Regions from separate parts of the Homo sapiens genome. Here all the other regions are linked to region 3. Evidence: fine-mapped expression QTL. A gene starts in region 3. Each other region holds a variant in brackets. All regions are shown on one strand. Distances are between the middles of the regions. Region 1 overlaps CDC42BPB (CDC42 binding protein kinase beta). Region 2 overlaps LOC124903391. Region 3 holds the start of CDC42BPB (CDC42 binding protein kinase beta).

The links. PIP is the estimated chance that this variant, and not a neighbour inherited with it, causes the effect. A credible set is the group of variants that fine-mapping cannot tell apart.
Region 1: its variant is the best candidate, but not a certain one, in a credible set for the expression of CDC42BPB in monocytes (Schmiedel 2018, PIP 0.74).
Region 2: its variant is the best candidate, but not a certain one, in a credible set for the expression of CDC42BPB in whole blood (TOPMed, PIP 0.51).

The regions. Positions count from the first base shown.
Region 1 is chr14:102,993,061-103,000,934 of GRCh38, reverse strand. It overlaps CDC42BPB (CDC42 binding protein kinase beta), which reads left to right. Exons shown (of 37, transcript NM_006035.4): 5 at 1,222-1,370. Among named protein-coding and RNA genes, the nearest start is that of CDC42BPB, 61 kb to the left of the region's middle. RefSeq lists an enhancer at 1,988-2,534. The variant C/T (reference allele first, on the strand shown) is at 3,673.
Region 2 is chr14:103,192,527-103,200,400 of GRCh38, reverse strand. It overlaps LOC124903391, which reads left to right. Exons shown (of 2, transcript XM_047432044.1): 2 at 3,926-4,206. Among named protein-coding and RNA genes, the nearest start is that of LINC00605, 7.4 kb to the right of the region's middle. The variant C/G (reference allele first, on the strand shown) is at 3,266.
Region 3 is chr14:103,052,823-103,060,696 of GRCh38, reverse strand. CDC42BPB (CDC42 binding protein kinase beta) reads left to right here and starts at 3,148. Exons shown (of 37, transcript NM_006035.4): 1 at 3,148-3,698. The coding sequence starts at 3,524. RefSeq lists an enhancer at 2,011-2,661 and silencers at 2,657-2,766, 2,807-3,306, 3,397-3,476.

The DNA.
Region 1 (7,874 bases), 60 kb after region 3:
CGTGGAGTCTGACTGTTGGGCCCAGGTCTTTGCTCTGTCCTTGCTTGCTGGGAGACCCCGGGCCCATCCCCAAGCCTCCCGTGTCGATGGGGTCTTGGTGCCAGAGGCAAGGGCAGGTGGGAGCGTGAACAGGACAGCACTGGCCTGTGTCTCACAGCCTGGGCCCGAGCGTGGGCCTTCATGGTGACAGCAGCTGATATGATTAGGTTCTCCATAAATATTACAGGGTCCCTGCCCCGGCTGATAAACAGGGCGTTTACTCCCTGTGCGGGTTAGTTAAAAGCTAGCTGTCCAGACCACAGCATCCATCTCTTCACAGGAAATTTGCACCAAGGAAGGCGGCTCCTGTGAGGTTCAGGCCACGTGCTTCCCCAGCATTCACTGAGGCACAGCGGCCCCAGAGATGGAGGTGTTGGCTGCCACCCTGACTCTGGCTGTGATGGTCTTGCCTGTCCTGGGCCTCTCTGACCTGTGAGATCTCCCCACTGGGGCCTCCACAGACTGTGGGCTTTGTGGTCTGAGCTTTCTGAGTGCTGCAAGAGACAGGCTGTCCTCAGGCAGAGCTCTACGCAGGCTCACCTCGGGGTCGCCCACTCCCAGCACACGGCTGGCCCGGTGGCGAGGGAACTCGCGGGGAAGTGACGGGCTCAGCCCTGTTAGCAGATGTTTTTTCTCCCATTACTCCAATTTCTACTTAAGTAGGAGCTTTTCTGAGGTTTCTGTTGGAGTGAACCTATAAGTAATTATCTTTCGGCTCTTTTATGATATAATCTTTCCAATAAGAACTGCTGATACCATGTGTGATGTTAACTACTTTGCCTCCCTTCTCTGGTCTGGTGTCGTCCTCACATAACATGAGGGCCTGGAGAATTATTTTTAAACCCATAGGATTGATGGGCTATTAACTGTGCTTCTGCTTTGGGTCACTAGCTTTTAGAGTGCCCTCTCCAACCTCAAGCCCTTTCATCATTCCTCCCATTGATTAAATACATCACTTACTGAAGTCCACTCTCTGCCATATGCACCCCTGAAGATGGCGGCGTCGTGGACGCATCGGGGCGCATGTTCCAGAAGGAGGGTCTTGGGTGACAGAAGAGCAGCTGAGATGCCACGAGCCAGACCTGGAGCCTGAGAACCTCGCCATGGAAGACTGGCCTGTAACTGTCAGGTTTAGTGGTGACTAAATGTGGTATTCTCTCCCCTTCTCTTTCCAATTTGTAGTACTTAGTCATGGATTACTATGTGGGTGGTGATTTACTGACCCTGCTCAGCAAATTTGAAGACAAGCTTCCGGAAGATATGGCGAGGTTCTACATTGGTGAAATGGTGCTGGCCATTGACTCCATCCATCAGCTTCATTACGTGCACAGGTAACCGGCTTCTGATATATTTTATGGAAACCACGTTTAATTGTTAAAAGACTCCTTTCAGAGCTCCCAAGTCCAGGCCGTCCCAAGAAGCCATGTAGGTAGCGAGTCCCCACTTTGAGCTGCCGCAGCACAGACTGATTTGCCCACATCACCGTCTTCCAGCCCCAGCAGCCGGTGGATCCCAGCTCTCATTGTTGCAGTTGTCATGGTCTGCTGTCAGCCGAAGCCACTGTGTCTTTTGATATTTATTTGACATTGACTCAACTTCTCCCCGTCTGAGACCCCCTCCCTAAAATGCCTGTGCTCCCTGGGGCTCACGTGGGCCCCGGGGTCCTCTGTCTCTACCGCCCAAGACCCCCTCCCTAAAATGCTTGTGCTCCCTGGGGCTCACGTGGGCCCCGGGGTCCTCTGTCTCTACCGCCCAAGACCCCCTCCCTAAAATGCCTGTGCTCCCTGGGGCTCACGTGGGCCCCGGGGTCCTCTGTCTCTACCGCCCAAGACCCCCTCCCTAAAATGCTTGTGCTCCCTGGGGCTCACGTGGGCCCCGGGGTCCTCTGTCTCTACCGCCCAAGACCCCCTCCCTAAAATGCCTGTGCTCCCTGGGGCTCACGTGGGCCCCGGGGTCCTCTGTCTCTACCGCCCAAGACCCCCTCCCTAAAATGCCTGTGCTCCCTGGGGCTCACGTGGGGCTCAGGGTCCTCTGTCCTTACCACCCTGAAATGTCTCGTGTGGGGCCTGGGGCCCTCTGTCCCCACATTCTTTCTCAACTCTGGTCTTCTCTGTGCCGTGCTGACCCCTGAAGGGCCCCAGGACACTCACAAAGGAAATAGGGCTTGAGGAAGAGGCTTCCATCACTGCGACTTGCAGGAGTTGAGCTGAGAGAGCGTGTGGGGCAGAGGCCTAAAGCAGCTCCGTCTCCTGCTCTCAGGGGCCCCCTCTGCCTTCTCGGCTGGGAGGGCAGCTCCCCAGTGACTCAGCCACTGAGTCCACATCTTCACATCCCTCTTGTCCTGAGACTCAAAGATTCAGTCCTGTGGTTTGTTTTGGTTTTCGTTGTTTTTAAAAACTAGTTTTACTTGTATTTTTATTACAAGATAATTTTATGGTAATAGGTTTAAAAAGTCAAACAGTTCTATAGAGCCTCCAACCAAAACCAAGCCCAGCCCTGGCCCCGCTGATTACACTTGGTCAGGTAACTATTGTAAATTTGTAAAATTATTTTTCCAGCATCTGCCTTCATGTGTCTTAAGTCACAGGTTTATATTGCTAATTTCTTTCTTTTCTTTTTTGGCTTTAGATCACATCTATGAAATTGAAATTTTAACTCTTTTACATAATTACCTCTTTCTCTCTGTCACCCATCTCTCTCACATATACTTCCAAACTGTCTTCCTTTCTCCCACATCATCCTTTTCATTTTTATTTTGATATATTTTTTAGGATGGAGTCTCGCTCTGCCACCCAGGCTGGAGTGCAGTGGCGTGATTTCACTCACTATAGCCTCTGCCTCCTGGGTTCAAGAGATTCTCCTGCCTCAGGCTCCTGAGTAGCCATTACGCCCAGCTAATTTTTTTGTATTTTTAGTAGAGATGGGATTTCGCCATGTTGGCCAGGCTGGTCTTGAACTCTTGACCTCAAGTGATCCGCCCATCTCGGCCTCCCAAAGTGCTGGGATTACAGGCGTGAGCCACCGCGCCCGGCTCCACGTCATCCTGATTAGAATGGTTAAAATCCATCCTTTCAGCTATGGTTCAGTCAGCATTTGGTGTTGATAATACTGTGACTGCGTAACTATGACAGCAGCCTTGTAGTTGAGAACTACACTTACATAAACTTCTGCTTTCTCTGGAGTTGATAATTGCCTTGCTTTTTATTAGCTTTTCTTTGTAGCTGTCACTAATTTGTCCCCAGATATTGTGGCCACGTTATGAAGCTCCGTACCGGACATGCATCGGGTAGTCTCGATCTGGTTTTCCTTGGCGCTGTCCCTTCCATCGTTCCCCTCCTCTCTTCCACGTTGGTTCCTCATTTGTCCTGTGCTGCACTCATTCTGAGATGGCTTTTCAAGTGCAGAGATCCCCTCTCCCTTTCTGGGACTGGCTCCCAGCTTTTCCGAGCCGTTCATTTTTCTTTTTCTTGGCTTTTTAGTTTGGCTTGGTAGCGCGTGTCCTCCAGTGGTGGCTGGAAGGGGGGTATATGAGAGAGTTTTTTGAAATCAGTGCCTTTATTCCATGTGTGTCTGTGACTGGTGCTTTATCCAGTGTGGAGATTTTAGTTGGAAACCACTTTCCCCTTGGGACTT[C/T]GCAGGCATCACATGTGTCTGTGTCTTCCACCTTGAGGCTGCTCTCGAGAGGTGTGAGGCCATTGTGGTCTCCATGGCTTTGTGTTCTGAGCTGTAGGCCTGTGCTCGGGCCCCCTCCGTGGTGATCAGGAGGCTTTCCCAAGCAGACACAGCCCCTCCTGTGTGGGGAGCAAGGGCGCTGCTGAGTTATAGCTCTTCCGTCTTGCTGGAGTGCTGCTTCGTTGCTAGAGGAGGAAGTTGAGGCTAGAGAGGTGGGCGCCTTTCCTTAGCCTCATTGCTGATGGCTCGCACCTCCCAGCACACAGGGAGCTGTCCCGATAGAACAGACACTCATTTAGTGTGATGAGGTTGTGGACATTGCTTTCTCTTTCTTTCTTTTTAAAAAATACATTTCTTAACATAGTTATGCTTGCTTTTATAAATTAGTATAGGTTGTTTTTTTTTTTTTTTGAGATGGAGTCTCACTCTTGTTGCCTAGGCTGGAGTACAATGGAGCGGTCTCAGCTCACTATAATCTCCACCTCCCAGGTTCAAGCAATTCTCTTGCCTCAGCCTCCCGAGTAGCTAGGATTACAGGCATGCACCATCACACCCAACTAATTTTGTGTTTTTAGTAGAGATGGGGTTTCTCCATGTTGGTCAGGCTGGTCTAGAACTCCTGACCTCAGGTGATCCACCCACCTCGGCCTCCCAAAGTTCTGGAATTACAGGCATGAGCCACCTCCCCCGGCCCATAAGTTAGTATAGGTTTTAACATTTAGATTTTATACTGTCTTCTTGGTAGAACTTAATTCACAATAGAGAAATAAATGTCTTTGTATTTATCACAGATCTCCAGGGAAATTAGTTTGACCACCTTTTAAATTGTTTTTCTCCCCCTAAATAGAAAGCGTTCTCCTCATTCTCTCTCTCTTTTCTTTTTTGAGACGGAGTCTTGCTCTGTCACCCAGGCTGGAGTGCAGTGGCATCATCTCAGCTCACTGCAAGCTCCGCCTCCCGGGTTCACGCCATTCTCCTGCCTCAGCCTCCCGAGTAGCTGGGACTACAGGTGCCCACCACCACGCCCAGCTAATTTTTTTGTATTTTTAGTAGAGATGGGGTTTCACCGTGTTAGCCAGAATGGTCTTGATCTCCTGACCTCGTGATCCGCCCGCCTCGGCCTCCCAAAGTGCTGGGATTACAGGCGTGAGCCATCCTCATTCTCTTAATTGGCTGTGTAGAAGCTTTGCTCAGTCGTTTGACGTCCGGGCATAGTAGACATCAAAATATGTAATTTTAAAACTTTATTTTTCCCCCCAAATTAACTCATTATTCAGACTGAGTGCCCAGATGCAATCTAAAAATAGAACAGAGATTTTTCTAGGAGGCCTGTCTTACCCCAGTCTCAGGTGGGGGCATTGTGAACATTTGGTAGGGTCAGAAAGAAATGTCATTGGCGCCAGAGTGGTGCCGCTGGCCGATGTTACGGTGTGGCCAACTTTACGGCGTGGCTGACGTTACAGCATGGTTTGGAGCCCGTGCCACTGTGCTGCCGCTTGGGCCCCTTCCTGGGGTTAGTCGGGTGCTGTGGGGATCCCACCCCGCAGGCGGGGGTCTGCAGGTTTCACAGCTGCTGCCTGGTTTCCGCAGCTGGACCCCAAAAGCCTTCCGGGTGAGGAAATCAGTGGCAGACCAGGACCCTGTGGGTGCCCCTCACAGGTGGGTACAGCTCCTTCCTGAGAGGTCAGCCCCTGATGATATCCGGAAAGGCAGAGATCATGAATGACACAAAGGGTTTCAGAGAGAGAACATCGGCCACAGTGGCTCACGCCTGTAATCCCAGCACTTTGGGAGGCCTAGGCAGGTGGATCACCTGAGGTCAGGAGTTTGAGACCTGCCTGGCCAACATGGTAAAACCTGTCTCTACTAAAAATACAAAAAATTAGCCAGGCTTAGTGATGAGCACCTGTACTCCCAGCTGCTCGGGAGGCTGGGGCAGGAGGACTGCTTGAACCCGTGAAGTGGAGGTTGCAGTGAGCCGAGATCGCGCCATTGCACTCCAGCCTGGAGAACAAGAGCGATACTCTGTCTCAAAAAAAAAAAAGAGAGAGAGAGAGAACATCACATCCCTAAAGAGAGAGCAGAGAGTATAGTGTATGAACAAAATAAGAACAGAGTACAAATTTTAAGAAAAAGAATATGTAGAAAACAAAAAGTCTTGGAAAATAAAAGCTAAAGTAGAAAGTTGAGTAGAAGAGGCAGAAGATGAAGTAGAGGAAATCTGACAAAAAGGAAAAAAAGAAAAGAAAACCTCGGAGAGAAGATCTGGCGGTCAGAGTGGCTCTGGAGCCACACCCCAGGTGGTGGACTGTGCTCTGGAGGCTGAGGCACACCTGCTGTGGGAATCAGACCTCTGCTGGTTTTGCAGCAGGAAGTTCCACAAGGGGAACGGATGGAAGTGGGAGTTGACATCACTCAGAAATGGTACGGTGAGGGACAGAAGCAGCCTCCCTTTTCAGTGTCAGAGGAAGAGCTGGAAGGGAGACATAAAGCCTGCAATTCACCATGGCTCTTTCACCCACACCTGCTGGATGCCACTGATTTTAGCCAGAATCTCAGCAGCTGGGAGAAAATGCACTTGGGGGAGCCTAGAGCTGCTTCTCAGCGCTGTGCCTGACTCTCCCCTGAAGACGCCGCTGCTCCCCGCTGTGCCATTAGAGGAGAATGGACATAGGCAGTCCCAGCACAGTGGCCCATGGGGACCGTCAGCTCTCTCAGTTGGCCTGGGCATCTGCCCATCTAAAGGCCTCGGCGGTTGGGAGCCATAGGTCAGCCCTTGCCCTGAACCTCCAGTGCTCTTCTGTCAGGAGAGCTTTCCTCACACAAACAGCAAGTTCACTTAAAAAAAAAAAATCAACCACCACCACATGTTTTAAATACAGAATTATACGGCGCAGATGACCCCCAGTGCGTGCAAATGGCCCCTGGAAGGTATACAAGGAAGATGGCCTTCCGGAGACCCCTCCTCGGCCTGTCTTCTCAGAGTGTACTGTGTTGGTGGTCCTGGGGTGGCCCCTGGAAAAACATCCCTGTTTTATAGGGAATTCCTGGCAACCAGGTCCTGTTTAGCCTGGACTCTGGTCGTTGCATTCCTGCTAACTCGGTCCATAGAACACCTGTTGTGGCGTGTCTCGGCGCCTCCTTACTCTCTTCTGTGTCTTCCTAGCCTGTCTCAGGCCACTTGGGACATTTTTCGTGTGTATGTGAAATTATGGTTATTTGCCTTAAACATTTTCCTATATAATCATTTCTCCATTTCTCTGAATTGCCCTGCCTTCCATTCCCAAACCAAAAAAGTTAAGCCTAAATGATGAGATTTTTGGGGAGAAGAACCAGTTTGTTCCAGTCTAAATAAAGTAGTGTAATTATCCTTGTCTTTAATCCATTTCTTCCCGGCAGCCAGGTATAGAGCTTGTTACACAACCTCCTTGAGCTTCTCTTCATACATTTGTCCTGTATGCATTGCTTCAAGTCTTCCTTGTCATAAAACTGGTCATCTTTTATTTACATGGGTGACTCACAGAAGGGAGTGGAGGCAGGAAGCCATGGTGAAAAGTTTGTGAGGTCGAGTGAGCGCTTCTGAGTGCCCTGGTCATGGGGAGGGTAGGGGAAGGGCTGGGTCTGCTTCTGCTTCCAGGAGTGTTGGTCTTCATTTCCCCTCCCTCCCTCCCTCTTTCCCTCCATCCTTCCATCCTCTCATCCTTCCAACTCTCCCTCTCTCTTTCTGCCTTTCACTCTTTTTTCATGAGAAAAGAATGCAGAAAAACTGGTGGACGTGGGAGAGTCTGTTAGATGTCCCCAAAAGTGCTGTTAATAGACGTGCTCTTGGCCAGAAGCCTCGCATCCCATGTGGAGCGGCTCATTGAGAACCCACCTGCGGCATGCCCTGTGCACACAGCCTTCAGAGTTGCAGATACCTGCCTTTCTTCCCAACACTGGTGGAGTCTGTTGGGAAGTGAACGTAGTATATATAACGTATGAAGAAGAATTTGTTCCTCTGAAGCAAATTTAATTGAGATGTATTTAAATATGTATAGTAGACACTTCCAAGAAAAGAGGATTTTTATTAGTGAAAATAATATATTCAGCAGATGGGCCAGGTGCAGTGGCTCACGCCTGTAATCCCAACACTTTGGGAGGCCGAGGTGTGTGGATTGCTTGAG
Region 2 (7,874 bases), 140 kb before region 3:
TCTCTACTAAAAATACAAAAATTAGCCAGGCCTGGTGGTGCATGCCTGTAATCCTAGCTACTCGGGAGGCTGAAGTAGCTTGAAGAGTCGCTTGAACCCAGGAGGCGGAGGCTGCAGTGAGCCGAGATTGCGCCACTGCACTCCAGCCTGGGTAACAGAGTGAGACTCTGTGTCGAAAAATAAAATAAAGCATACAGGAGGATGTATATAGGTTATATGCAAATATTGAAACCGCCTTTGCAAAATTATGACTGAGCCAATGAAAGAGGTCCAACTTAAAGGACTCCATCTTGCCTCCAACCTCCAAGCTATCCTTATTCATTCCTGGGTGTAGGCTGAACTAACTTTGGGAGAAACTTAGTTCATAGTTTATAGTTTAAAACAAAGATAACAGCCTCCCAGGCTCAAGTGAGTCTCGTGCCTCAGGCTCCCAAGTAGCTGGGATTACAGGCATGCACCACTGTGCCCAGCTAAGTTTTTTTTTTTGTATTTTTAGTAGAGTTTCACTGTGGGTTTCACTGTGTTGCCCAGGCTGGTCTCAAACTCCTGGCCTCAAGTGATCCACCCGCCTCAGCCTCCCAAATTACTGGGATTACAGGCATGAGCCACTGTGCCCAGCCTATACTGATAAATTTAATTTGCCTAAAGTTTTTCTTTTTAAATTTAATTTACCTAAAGTTTTTCTTTTCTTTTCTTTTCTTTTTTGAGTCAGAGTCTCACTCTGTCAACCAGGCTGGAGTGCAATGGCACAATCTTTGGCTCACTGCAACCTCCGCCTCCTGGGTTCAAGCAATTCTCCTGCCTCAGCCTCCCAAGTAGCTGGGATTACAGGCACCCGCAACCATGCCCGGTTAATTTTTGTATTTTTAGTAGAGACAGGGTTTCACCATATTGGCCAGGCTGGTCTCTTGGCCAGGTTGAACTCCTGACCTTGTGATCCGCCAGCCTCAGCCTCCCAAAATGCTGGGATTACAGGCATGAGCCACCACGCCCGGCCTAAAGTTTTTCTTTTACCAGACGTGAGCATCTGTGGATTTTGGTAACTATGGGAGGTTCTGCAACCAATGGTTTACAGATACCGAGGGAGGAGTGTATAAATACTTCCCAGAAAAGAAATCACATATTTGGTCTTCATTCTGGCTCCTGACCCAAGAGCATCTAAAACCCTTGGAATTTCCTGAATGATAGGGATGAGAAGAGCATCTTTTGATATTCACGTAAACTAAATGTAAAATCCCAAGCCCCTCAACTGACTGAACAGACCTCTTCTTGGCCAAGGAGACCCCAGAGAAACTAAAAACTGAGTTTCCTGCCAGGAGGGGACGGACCTCCTTCAAACCTCTCCCTTTTGCAGTTTAGATAGAACCGACTAGTGCTAATGTTAAAACAGAGATCATAAGATTCGAAGAGCAGACTGTTTGTGCAATAACAGACCAAATTACAAACAGGACCGAAGGTCTTGCAAAACAAGGATGAGGTCACTCCTGCAGGCCATCAATCTTGCTAACTAGGTCATTTTTGACCTGGTATACGGTGGCTGACTCTGACACAGCATCCTCATCTTACCTTAAACATTCCTTTCTGCTAACTCTGTTTTTAGACAAAGTTTTGTTCCTTCAGCCAACTGCAAATTAAAGAATCTCCGAATGCTCCTGTGCCTTATAACATCCCCACCCTGACACCGCTTGAAAATATCCTGCCTTTCCAGGCTGTGCCAACCTATACCTTCCATGTGTTGATTTATGTCTTCGCCGGTAACTCCTGCCTCCCTGAAATGTGTTAAACCAAACTGTAATCCGACTACCTTGGGACAGTTACTCAAAGCTTCCTGGGTTTGTGTTTGCTCCTGGCTGTGGTCACTCATATTGGCTCAGAATAAATCCCTGCAAAACATTCTACAGAGTTTAGTTTTTACATTAACATTTATAACACGCCCCTTTCAGCCATAGCTGAATTTCTGTTAACAAGAGGACTGGTGGCTGAAGCCCCTAGGTAGCTGCAGGCTGGGGGCTGCAGAGGAGGCCCCCATGTGATTGGAGGGCTGGAACCTTCAGTCCTACCTGACCTCCAGGGAGAGGAGAGGGCTGGGGTTGAGTTAAGTACTGATGGTCAGTAAGTTAATCATGCCCATGTACATAATGGAAACTCCATGAAAACCCTAAACGGAGGGGTTTGGAGAGCACATCCACGTGTCAGGAGGGCGGTGCACCTGACTCCCTGGGGACAGAAGCCCCTGCCATAGGGACCTGCAGACCTCACCCTATGTACTTCTTCATCTGACTGTCCAGTTGCAGCCTTCTAATGAACTGGTCAATGTAAGTGTACCCCTGAGTTTTGTGAGCCCTACAGCAAATTACTGAACCTGGGGAGGGGCCGTGGGAACCCTTGATTTATAGCCAGTTGGTCAGAGTATGGGAGGACCAATGGTGGTAGGTGTCTGTAACCCCAGCTATGCGGGAGGCTGAGGCAGGGGAATCGCTTGAACCCGGGAGGCCAAGGTTGCAGTGAGCCAAGATCGTGCCACTGCACTCCAGCCTGGGTGACAGAGCAAGACTCAGTTTTAAAAAACAAACAAACAAACAAATGAGAGGCTGAGACGTGCACTTGGCTTCTGAACTGGGGGTGGTCTGGTGGGACTGAGCCGTTAATCTGTAGGGTCTGGGTTACCTCCCAGGAGTTCATGTCCAAATTGAATTGCAGGTCACCCAGTTGGCGTGCGGAGAGTTGGATGATCGGTTGGTGTGGGACATCCCCCCCCTCATTTAGTGTCAGAAATGTGAGAAATAGTTTGTCTTTAATAGATTAGACAGTACATTAAACATGGCTGAAGAGAGAGATGAAATGAACATTATTCAGAGTCGTGAATACTCCTGGGCCTGGTTTTCATCATAAACCACCCTGTACCCGCAGAGCTAAGAGCTCTTCATGCTGCCCCGAAGGCTTCGGACTCTCATAGAGTGTCTTACATTGATAGTTGGCTCACTTGAGCCTGTTATTATTATTATTTTGAGGCCTTTAAAACCATTAAGTGGGCCAACCCCACAGTTCTTCTGACTATTGCTTCAGTGCTTTTAAAGTACTCCCCTCACCCCCGCCCCGGCTGGGTGTGGAGGCTCACGCCTGTAATCCCAGCACTTTGGGAGGCCGAGGCAAGCAGATCACTTGAGGTCAGGAGTTCCAGACCAGCCTGGCCAAAATGGTGAAACCCCATCTCTGCTAAAAAATTAGCTGGGCGTGGCGGTGGGTGCCTGTACTCCCAGCTACT[C/G]GGGAGGCTGAGACAGGAGAATCGCTTGAATCTGGGAGGCGGAGGTTGCAGTGAGCCGAGATCGTGCCACTGCTCTCCAGCCTGGGCGACAAGAGTGAGACTCTGTCATAAATAAATAATAAAATAAAATAAAAAGCACCCCTCTACCACATGGACCCAGGCCTCACTTCCCAACGTGCATATCGTCATCCGCCCTGGGAGCCGTGGCAGCTGTCCTGCAGGCCGAGGCTCAGCACCTGCTCACTCCCCCCAGCAACAGGGTCCTGACAGTGGGGCTGCAGGGTGTGTGCTCTCCTGCCCTGAGGTTCTGCCTTTTAGGGCCACTTCTGTACTCTCTAAATTCGGATCCCCTCCACAAGCAGAATCTATGATGTGGGCCATAGGCTGGTGTGCAAGTAGTTTAGTTTTGGAAGTGGTTTAGGGGTCAGGAATGGGGGCCTCTTGTTCAAATGTCACTTACTTAAAGGGGGCTTCCCTTACCAACTGTTGTAGGTAGAACCATATCCCCTCAAAATTCATACGTTGAGTTCCCAGCCCTCAGTACCTCGGAATGTGACCTTATTTGGAAACAGGGTCATTGCAGATGTCATTAGTTAAGATGAGGTCATACTGGAGTTGTTGGGCCCCTCATCCACTATAACTGGCGTCCTTGTAAAACAGGGAATTTGGACAACGACATGCACGCAGGGAGAACAGCACATGAAGACGGAGGCAGGGATGGCAGAGACGTGTCCACCAGCCAGGAGCCAGACACTGCCAGCGGATCACACGCAGCTGGGAGGGGCCCGGACCGGATCTTTCCTCCCAACTCCCAGAAGGAACCACCCCTACTGATACCTGGATCTCAGACATCTGGCCTTCAGAACTGGGAGATAATCATTTCTGTTGAAGCCACCAAGGCTGTGGCACTTTGTAAACGCCTGCCCCAGGAAGCAAATACATAGACCTACAAAAAAAAAAAAAAAAAAAAAAATGCTACCACAAAGCCATCCCTTGCTGTCCTGCCTTGTTCCTTTTTCCTTTACAGCACTTCTCATCACCTGAAATGAGATTATTGATTTGTTGATTGCTTCCCCCATTGCCAGGTAACTCCTACGAGGGTGGGGCTGCACATGGCTCGCTGCTGCGTCTGCAGCGTCTAGCACAGCGCCTATCACATGGTGGGTATTACATGACTGCAATTCTATTACAGTGCTTGCTTTGAAATGTAAACTCGGCTGGGTGCGGTGGCTCATACCTGTAATCCCAGCACTTTGTGAGGCCGAGGCGGGTGGATCACGAGGTCATGAATTTGAGACCAGCCTGACCAACACGGTGAAACCTCATCTCTATTAAAAATATAAACATTAGCCAGTGTGGTGGTGTGCGCCTGTAGTCCCAGCTATTTGGGAGGCTGAGGCAGAAGAATCACTTGAACCCCAGAGGTGGAGGTTGCAGTGAGCTGAGATCATGCCACTGTACTCCAGCCTGGGTGACAGAATGAGATTCCATCTCAAAAAAAAAAAAAAAGAAAAAAAGAAAATGTCAATTCGTTCCAATGCATTTGGACAATTAGGGAACAATTTGAGCACAACATGAATTTTGCAATTGCTTATGTGTGATTGTCTGTAGGAAACACCAGGTGAACACCAGAAACACCCCCAGTGGAACTGAGGTGCACAGGAATGCACACAGTGCATGTGCACACACCTCAGAATCCGCCAGTGGCCTCAGTTTCCCGCTGGGTTGTGAGCCATACCCATTGAGCATTAGTCCAGTTTCACACTGCTATAAAGAACTACATAAGACTGTGTACTTTATAAAGAAAAGAGGTCTAATTGACTCACAGTTCCAAATGGCTGGGAAGGACTTGGGAAACTTACAATCATGCAGGAAGGTGAAGGGGAAGCAAGGCATGTCTTACATGGTGGCAGGAGAGAGACAGTGGGGTGGGACAGAGTCTCTTTCTGTAGCCCAGGCTGGAGTGCAGTGGCACGATCTTGGCTTACTGCAACCTCTGCCTCTGGGGTCCCGGTTCAAGCAATTCTCCTGCCTCAGCCTCCCGAGTAGCTGGGACTATAGGCGCACACCACCACACCCAGCTAATTTTTGTATTTTTAGTAGAGACGGGGTTTCACCATATTGGCCAGACTGGTCTCAAACTCCTGACCTCATGATCTGCCCGCGTCGGCCTCCCAAAGTGCTGGGATTACAGGCGGGAGCAACCGCGCCTGGCCAGTGCCATACTCTTAAACCATCAGATCTCATGAGAACTCACTCGCTATCAGAAGAGCAGCAAGGGAGAAATCCACCACCATGATCCAATCACCTCTCGCCCGGTCCCTTCCCTGACACATTCGGATTACAATTCGAGATGAGATTTGGGTGGCAACACAGAGCCAAACCATGTTTTCTCCAGTGACCCAGGGGACCCTGTTCCCTGCTTCGGGCATCTCACAGGCTATACCCCTTCCTCCATCTACTCCACAAGCAAACTTCAGGCCTTCAAATAAAGTGCCATGCTCATTGTAGTATTGATGTATTCCTCAACAATTTAGCATGTAAAACCCTTCTACCCTCTTTATTAGGTTCCTATCATTTAAAAAAATTGTGTCACTGATGGGGTGTTTTGAGTGTCCTTCCCCAACCTCGTTTTTTCCTTGTAAGTCCTGTGGTTTTTATTGTGCAATTTTGCATAGCCCAGCGCATTTTAGGAATGTGTTTGTTGCATCATAGCCAAGTTGATATATCTGATCTGTTGAGTGACTGAACCAATGCTCGTCTTCCTGAATTAAACCCTAATTTAGGCTGGTATATTTTATATATATATAATTTTTTTTTAAGACAGAGTCTCCCTCTGTCACCCAGGCTGGAATGCAGTGGCATGATCTTGGCTCACTGCAACCTCCACCTCCTGAGCTCAAGTGATTCTCATGTCTCAGCCTCCCAAGTAGCCGGGATTACAGGCACCTGCCACCACGTCCATATAATTTTTGTATTTTTGGTAGAGATGGGGTTTCACCATGTTGGCCATGCTGGTCTCGAACTCCTGACCTCAAGTGATCCGTCTGCCTTGGCCTCCCAAAGTGCTGGGATTACAGTCGTGAGCCACCATACCCAGGCTGCCTGGCCTATTTTTCTAATATTCTAATGAAATGAATTTGCTAATTGCTTGTTGAGGCTCTTTACAGCTGAAAAGCTTACAGCATAACATGGAACAATGTAGTGTTAATGTAAGGAGAGGAAAGACCCAGTAAGTGACAGCCTCCTTCCTCCTGCCCAAGACCCAACCAGTCCAGAAATAACATGACAAACGGGACTCAAGAACATGCACATGAAAGCGCCAGCTTTGTCACAGATCACGTCTGGGCTGGAGCAGATAACTTTGGTGGCTGCACCATGGATCTTCTTATTCCTACATCACAGATTTGGTCTCACTGACCAGAGTTAGGCAGCCCCAGTGGGAATTCCTGTTTCGGGAAGTCAGGGACCGCGAACGGAGGGACCAGCTGGAGCCGCGGCAGAGGAACATAAATTGTGAGGATTTCATGGACATTTATCAGTTCCCAAATAATACTTTTATAATTTCTTATGCCTGTCTTTACTTTAATCTCTTAATCCTGTTATCTTCGTAAGCTGAGGATGTATGTCACCTCAGTACCACTGTGATAATTGTGTTAACTGTACAAGTTGATTATAAAATATGTGTGTTTGAACAATATGAAATTAGTGCACCTTGAAAAAGAACATAATAACAGCGATTTTTAGGGAACAAGGAAAGACAAACATAAGGTCTGACTGCCTGCAGGGTCGGGCAAAAAGAGCCATATTTTTCTTCTTGCAGAGAGCCTATAAATGGACATGCAAGTAGGGAAGATATCACTAAATTCTTTTCCTAACAAGGAATATTAATATTAATACCCTGGGAAAGGAATGAGTTCCTGGGGGGAGATCTATAAACGGCCATTCTGGGAATGTCTGTCTTATGCGGTTGAGATAAGGACTGAGATACACCCTGGTCTCCTGCAGTACCCTCAGGCTTACTAGGGTTAGGAAACTCCACCCTGGTAAATTTGTGGTCAGACCAGTTCTCTGCTCTTGCACCCTGTTTTCTGTTGTTTAAGATGTTTATCAAGACAGTACGTGCACCGCTGAACATAGACCCTCATCAGTAGTTCTGCTTTTGCCCTTTGTCCTGTTCCCTCAGAAGCATGTGATCTTTGTACCTACTCCCTGTTCTTACACCCCCTCCTCTTTTGAAACCCTCAATAAAAACTTGCTGGTCTGAGACTCAGGCGGGCATCACAGTCCTACTGATATGTGATGTCATCCCCAGCGGCCCAGCTGTAAAATTCTTCTCTTTGTACTGTCCCTCTATGTTTCTCAGCTGGCTGACACTTGTGGAAAATAGAAAGAACTTACGTTGAAATATTGGTGGTGAGTTCCCCCAGTAAGTTCCCTCTTGAAGTTCATCACAGGGAACTGCAGGTCAGAACGTGAGCTTCCTGCAGGCGGCAAGTGCCACCCATATCCCAGGGGCTCCTCTGTCCCTATCTCCTGACCTCATCTTACTCCACAGGCCTGGCTGGGCCAGGAAGCCTTGGACTCCTCTCTGAGCCTTTGGCCCTAT
Region 3 (7,874 bases):
TGTGGTGGCATACACCTGTAGTCCCCACTACTGTGGAGGCTGAGATGGGAGGATTACTTGAGCCTGGCAGTTCAAGGCTGCAGTGAGCTATGATTGTGCCAAGTCACTTCAGCCTGTATGACGGAGCAAGACCATGTCTCTAAAAAATAAATAGATAAATGAATACATAAACAAATAAGTTCTCTGATTGGCCTGGCTTCAGTCACATGACTGAAGGGGGATGAAGTGCTGCTAGGGTCTTGGGTCACATGTCCACCCTGGTGCCAGCCCCTCTAGAATCCTATGATCAGAGTGGAGCTGGAGCACAGACTCACAGGGCATGGGGCTCAGGAGAGAGAGAAAGCGAGGGCAGACGAATACAAGGACTGTCCACCAAAGGCACGATGACCTTTGTTGTACATTTGTAAATGTATAAGAACAGTAAATGGAAATTTCCAGGAGGCAAGAAGAGAGAGCAGATGTGGAATTCTCAAATGCTATGTCAGATCGCCATGGGCAGATTGTCAAGAGAAATGTTTGGGAATCTGTCCCACACTCAGGAATAAAAGATGAGAGTGGAAGAGAAAGTTTGGTCAGGTGATCCTGCCAGGGGACACAGAGGACAGGCACTCCTTCCTTCACTTTAAGCCTGTGAGGGTGGCTTCCAAGGGATTTCTCAGAGAGCTCAATATTTGGCACTCAATTTGGAGGGCACAGTGGCAGGAAGGGCTCATGTGCTGTTTCAGAGGCAGAGCTATGCTGCTGTGCTGGGACCCACCTGTTCACTAATGTTGGGGCGAGGAGTGTGCCAGTGTTTCCTGAGGACAGATGTGAGCTGGGTGGATGAGCAAGCACAAGACCCATGGATCCATTTAGGTCCTGTCCAAAAGTCCCTCAGGAAGGGCAGAGGGCCCCTCCCCTCCACAGCCACCAGGTAAGCATCCACCCAGTGGCACATCTGCTTGAGTTAAGGGGACTTCAGGAGACAAAGCAGCAGGGAACCACCGAGGAGCCCATGAATGTTCCCAGGAGAGACAGGGTCAGCTTTACCCTCTGCCAATCCAGATGGGATTGGAGCCCTTCCCCACTTCTCCCTTTCTCCCTTCCCGGTGGTGGTTCTAGATGGGTGGAAGTGGGCTGAGCGAGCCGAGGGAGGTTTGGGGAAGGAGATGGCACCAGGCACAGCCCCCTTTCCCCTTGCTCATCTCAGGCCCTAAGGGGTCCAAGGGGGAAGATTTAACTTTGATTTTGAGCCAGGTGATCTGCTCAGACTTTTTAAAAAAAACTTTTAAGGTGTCATACACAAATAGTAACATGCAAATATTTAGAATACAGTTTGATGAATTTATACACATTTACAGACCCAACGTTACAAAACGGCTGTGCTGAAGATACAGAATGTTCCCAGCCCCCTAGAGGCCTCTCCTTGTGCCTCCTTCCAGTTGATACCCCAAAGGCAACCAGTACTCTCACCTCTAACGCCAGATTGTTCTCACCTGCCTTTAAGAAATGAAGGTATTATATATACATACACACAGTGACATGCACTCATCTTAAGAAGACAGTTTGAAGAATGTTTACTTATGCGTGCTCCCATGTAACTACTACCCAAATCCAGGCATAGAACATTACCAGCAGCCCAGAAGGTTCCTCCTCTTGTTCCAGTCAACAACTCCGGCATAGGCAGCCACTCCTCTTCTTCTTCTTCTTCTTCTTATTATTATTACTATTATTAAGACGGAGTCGTGCTCTGTTGCCCATGCTGGAGTGCAGTGGAGCGATCTTGGCTCACTGCACTTTCGCCTCCCGGGTTCAAGTAATTCTCCTGCCTTAGCCTCTCGAGTAGCTGGGACTACAGGCGCGCGCCACCACGCCCGGCTAGTTTTTTGTATTTTAGTAGAGACGGGGTTTCACCGTGTTGCCCAGGCTGGTCTCGAAGTCCTGAGCTCAGGCAATCCGCCCACCTCGGCCTCCTAAAGTGCTGGGATTACAGGTGTGAGCCACCGCGCCAGGCCCACTCCTATTTTTAGCTCCAGAGATTAGTTTTGCTTCAGGCTCCCTTAACGTCCTGCTTCAAACCCCTATCTGCCCCTTCATCGGCTCCACCTGGAGGCCACCGCTTCCACGGAAGCATGACCCCTTCCCCTGCACCCGCGCGCCCCAGAAGCTCTCAGATACCCCCACGATTTCGGTGACCTTCCGCAAGCTCCAGGAAAAGCCCCTCCTCTCCTGACGCCAAGGGTTTGTTGGGGTTGGGGGGTATCTCCATCAGCCTCCCTCCCCCAGCCACCCAAATTAACCAACAATCTTAGTAAATGCAGCGACTCGCTAGGCAAACCCAGCCTGGAGACAAATATCCGGCCCCTTTCCTACCAAACTGTCACACCTAGGCATTGGTCTGCAGGGAGGGCTGGACAGTGGAAACTGAAACCCTCTGCAAGCCATCACGAATCCACCGGGCACTGGGGACGCTGGCTCCCGCCTTGGCAGCATCCCCCAGAAGCCTGGGCCCTGACCCCACACCGTCTGGGCCTCAGTCTCTCATCGGTAAAGTCAGGGGTAGGGCCCGAGTCTTCCAGGACCGCTTCGAGCTGGGACAAGCCGTTTTAAATAGCCCACAACCCGCCGAGGCCATCAGAGCTGCGCCTGCCGGGCCGCCCTCGACCCCCACCTCGGCCGGGCAGGTCCGAGGCCCCGCAGGCAACATGGGCCCGCGGACTGCGGGACGGGGCTCGACGGCCTGAGATCGCGACTCTGCCTCTCCGATACTTGGGGTCGTCTTCGGCCCCGGGATCCGCGACGCGCGCGGTCGGACCCCGAATACTGAAGGCACCGGGTCCGCAGGGCGAAGGCGCACACGCCCACCAGGCGCGCTCTGCGCATGCGCGGGCTCCGCAATCTCAGCGGCCCACTCGCCCCGCCCCGCCCCCCCCACCCCCACCCCGCGCCGCTCCCCAGGCCCGGCCCTGCCTTCCCAGCATCCCGGCTCCCTACGGCAAGCGGCGAGGCCCGAGCCCGCCGGGAGCAGGGAGCCGGGCGCGGGGCGGGGCGGCGCGCTGAGGTCAGCGCGGCGGCGGCCGGCCCCGTAGTGGTTGGCTGCGCTGGTGCTGGCCGCGCCCTGGTTGGCTGCGGGCCGCGGGGCTGGGCCGCCGGGTCGGGGCTGGGGTCGGGCTCGGGCGCCGGCCGGGCTTGCGCAGCGCTAGGCTCCTCGCCGCTCCTAGTCTGCGGCGGCGGCGGCGGGGAGGGCGCGGCCGCGGGCGGGGCTGAGGGCGGCGGGGGCGGGCCGCCCGAGCTGGGAGGGCGGCGGCGCCGAGGGGAGGAGAGCGGCCCATGGACCCGCGGGGCCCGGCGCCCCAGACTCTGCGCCGTCGGGACGGAGCCCAAGATGTCGGCCTAGGCCGGGGCGCGACGACGCGGACGGGGCGGCGAGGAGGCGCCGCTGCTGCCGGGGCTCGCAGCCGCCGAGCCCCCGAGGGCGCGCCCTGACGGACTGGCCGAGCCGGCGGTGAGAGGCCGGCGCGTCGGGAGCGGGCCGCGCGGCACCATGTCGGCCAAGGTGCGGCTCAAGAAGCTGGAGCAGCTGCTCCTGGACGGGCCCTGGCGCAACGAGAGCGCCCTGAGCGTGGAAACGCTGCTCGACGTGCTCGTCTGCCTGTACACCGAGTGCAGCCACTCGGCCCTGCGCCGCGACAAGTACGTGGCCGAGTTCCTCGAGTGGGGTAAGTGCGCGCCGGCAGGGCCGGACCTGCGGCTCTGCGACCCCCGCGCCCCAGCCCGCGCATCCCCACGCCCGCCCATCCCCGCCCGGACAGACCCTGCCGCCCTCCTGCCCACCCAGCTCGTGGGCTTCGCCTCCTCTCGCTCTGGCAGCGCCCCCAGGCCCGCAGCCCATCTCTCTCCAGCCGCTCCTTGCACCCTCGTCCCTCCGCTAGCTTTTCATCCCTCCTTGCCCTCCCTAGGCTCGACATCCGCGTTCGATCGTCCCGCCCCCTCATCCTGCCCCTTGGAGCCACATCCTACGTTCCCACTCCCACCCCCTCCCCCCCGCCGGGCCCTCGCCCTGGCGGCTTCCTAGATCCACCCTCCGAGTCTGGATATCATTTCCTGCAGCACTCACTGGGATATCCGCCCCCGCCCCCGCCCCCGCCCCCGCACCTCGCCTTTGGGGTCCGGAGGCAGTGTGGAATTAGTTCCCTTTCCCCACCCCACGCTTCTCTGCGTTGTGGGGGCAGCTGGGTGTGCTTTCTGCATCTGCCTCGCCCACTGCCCCGTGGGACCCCCTTGCATCCCCAGGGAGCCCAGCTCTAACGGCCCCTCCTGGGTGACAGCCTGTCTACATCCCCTTGTTGGTCAGAGCCTGAATACCTACTTTGCTGTAACACCTTCAAGGGAATTTTAAGGTTAAGGCTTTATTTTAAATAAACCGTGCAAGAGGACTTTTTTTTTTTAATTCCAATTCTGCTAGACCTTTGTGATATTTGGAGGGGTAGCTGGAGCTATCACTTAGAAACTTTCTCATCTGAATTTTGCATGCCTTCTCTAGTTCGTTCCGGATCTATAATGTTTTAATCATTGGTCAGCTAACCTATTATGCTTTTTTAGGACAAAAATTTGATTAAACCATTTAACGATAATTAGGATCCTAAAGACAGGTAAAAGTGCAGCGTGAAACTCTTTTACTTCATCTCTCCCTAACGGGTGTGCCGGTCAAGACCCTCAGACTGTCTCACCTAAAACCACTGAGTAGGAGGAGGAAATGCGTATGTTCAGGCCAAACCTATGAAAACCTTATCCTTGGGTCATTTGCGTCACTGGGCTAGGACTGTTCAGTTCGAACCAGTAATTTCTAATCTTTGGGGCTGATAAAGCTGATATTTATACGAAGAAACAAATGAAAGTGTTCCACAGTGAGGCCTCCAGGCCTCCTACTCTACTCTGCCAGATTGGTGACTGGAATTTGGAATTTTGTTTACAAATAAAACTTAAGTTGCAATATTCTTTAGAGGGCTTCTGTTGGATTACTCTGTAGTGAAATGTTACACGGTATCTTGTGAGAGCAGCAGTAGAAAGAGGTCCTGAGATCAAGGACAGCCTGTGATGCTTTATTTCCGTGGGAACCACCATTCTTGGTTACTTATAGTATCAGTAAATTAAGAGTATTTGCTTTCTAGCGTCCTTTGTCAGTGACACGATTTCCAACTGAATAATTAATTGACTTCACCGTTGCTTTGAAAGTGAGGTCTTTGGTGCATGTTAAAATCTGAATATTTTGTTTACCTTTTCTTTCTTTTCTTTGGAGACGAGTCTCACTGTGTTGCCTAGGCTGGAGTGCAGTGGCATGATCTTGGCTCACTACAACCTCCATCTCCTGGGTTCAAGTAATTCTCCTGCCTCAGCCTCCCGAGTAGCTGGGACTACAGGCACGCACCAGCATGCCCGGCTCATTTTTGTATTTTTAGTGGAGAAGGGGTTTCACAGTGTTGGCCAGGCTGGTCTTGTACTCCTGACCTCGGGTGATCCACCTGCCTCGGCCTCCCAAAGTGCTGGGATTACAGGCGTGAGCCACTGCACCCAGCTTGTTTACCGTTCCTTTCTGATCACTCGATCTTGAAACCCACACAGTTCCACTGTCAGGTTCAACTTGGTGCACCACCTGTGAGTGTGACTGGGAAGAGGAAGCAGAGGGAAAGTTGGTTTTGCTGGGAAGATGTGGTCCCACTGGCCTCTGGCCTGGGACCTAGAAGATTAGTCTGAGGGCGGGGGCCCTGGGGGCCATTGTGCAGCCACCTCTCTCCACCAGGCATTACTGGTGGGCTTCCCTGGAGGAAGCTCTTGTCAGCATGTGTGGAGGTCATATTTTATGAGATCTGGCCTTTCCAAATCTAAACGGGAACTGTGCTGTAACATAGACATATTTTCAAAGTTGTATTCTGGCTCTTTGGAAATTGTGATTACAAACTACATTATTCTCAGGAACTCAGTTTGCACAAAAGTATAAACTTTCAATTATAGGGAAGAATGGACTTAGAAGGTGGTGTTTTAATGAAATATCAATATATTTTACAAGTATTTAAACTCATTTATGTTAACATATACGTCATTGTAACTCTAAAGTGGTGTATTTCTAGTTAACATGTGTGCAGTTAGTATTTAATGTTGCTTGGAATTGCCTGGTTGTTTCGATTGGAAAGCACAGAATAATGTTTTTGAATAAAACTATTTATAGAGCAATATTAGGTACTCTAACTTCCAAGTGGAATTACTTCTGCTCAGGAAACACATATAGGCTGTCCATCAGTGGACTGTTCAGTTTTTGGATTCACCACTCCATGACATTTGAAACCTCTGATATGTCGATTCCTGTCACGTGGAAAAGCCAACCTTTCCCCACTTCCCAAATCTTGCCAGGTATCTAATGACAATTATGGAGAATTCTTGAAACTTAAGGAAGAAAAGTAGCTGATTCAGCCCAGATTTGGAGGCTTAATGGGGAATATGTGAGGAAATTTGGAAAGTATAGGTAGTAAACTTTTTAAGTTTTAAAGGAAGATTATGGCCTGGTGCAGTGGCTCATGCCTGTAATCCCAGCACTTTGGGAGGCCAAGGTGGAGGATTGGTTGAACTCAGGAAGACAAGACCAGCCTGAGCAACCTGACAAAACCCAGTATCTATAATAAATGTCAAAATAAAATTTTATAAAAATATAAAAATTAGCTGGGCATGGTGGCGCACACCTGTAGTCCCAGTTACTCTGGAGGCTGAGGTGGGTGGATCACTTGAGCCTGGGAGGTCAAGGCTGCAATGAGCAATGATCATGCCACTACACTCCAGCCTGGGCAACAGAGTGAGACCCTGTCTCAAAAATAAATAAAATATGATTATTTTTGGCTCATATTTTCTTATTGCCACAGTGGTCGCATGGGACAAGAGTCATTTCAACTTTTTTTTTTTTTTTTGAGACGGAGTCTCACTCTGTCGCCCAGGCTGGAGTGCAGTGGCGGGATCTCGGCTCACTGCAAGCTCTGCCTCCCGGGTTCACGTTGTTCTCCTGCCTCAGCCTCCTGAGTAGCTGGGACTACAGGCGCCCGCCATCACGCCTGGCTAATTTTTTTGTATTTTTAGTAGAGACGGGGTTTCACCGTGTTAGCCAGGATGGTCTCGATCTCCAGACCTCGTGATCTGCCCCCCTTGGCCTCCCAAAGTTCTTGGATTACAGGTGTGAGCCACCGTGCCTGGCCGAGTCATTTCAACTTTCATTGTAGGTTTTTGTCTTTAATTTTCCTATAGCTTGATTGGTTTCCTCTATGAAATCTTGAACCTTAATGCCCAGCTTTGCGTGTGTATTCTTTTCTTTTCTTTTCTTTTTTTTTTGAGACGGAGTCTCACTCTGTTGCCCAGGCTGAAGTGCAGTGGTGCGATCTTGGCTCACTGCAACCTCCGCCTCCCGGGTTCAAGCAATTCTCTGCCTCAGTCTCCCGAGTAGCTGGGATTATAGGTGCCTGCCACCACGCCTGGCTAATTTTTGTATTTTTAGTAAAGACGGGGTTTCACCATCTTGGCCAGGCTGGTCTTAAAGTCCTGACCTCGTGATCCACCCTCCTCGGCCTCTCAAAGTGCTGGGATTACAGGCGTGAGCCACCACGCCTGGCCTTGCATGTATATTTCTTTAAGCTATTTTGAAAATATCTTGATACCATTTGAAGCAGAACATATGAAACACTTTACAGTTTCCAAAAGTAAATAGCAACAAATACGGACAACCCAGTGAGATGAATTTGTTGTCTTTCATCTTTGTCATATACAAATACTGTCTTATGTGTTAAATATTTTTCCCACAGCTTATTTGTAACAGCTAATGTTGCGTTTGGATGGAGCTGATGTTTGAAATCCTAGCC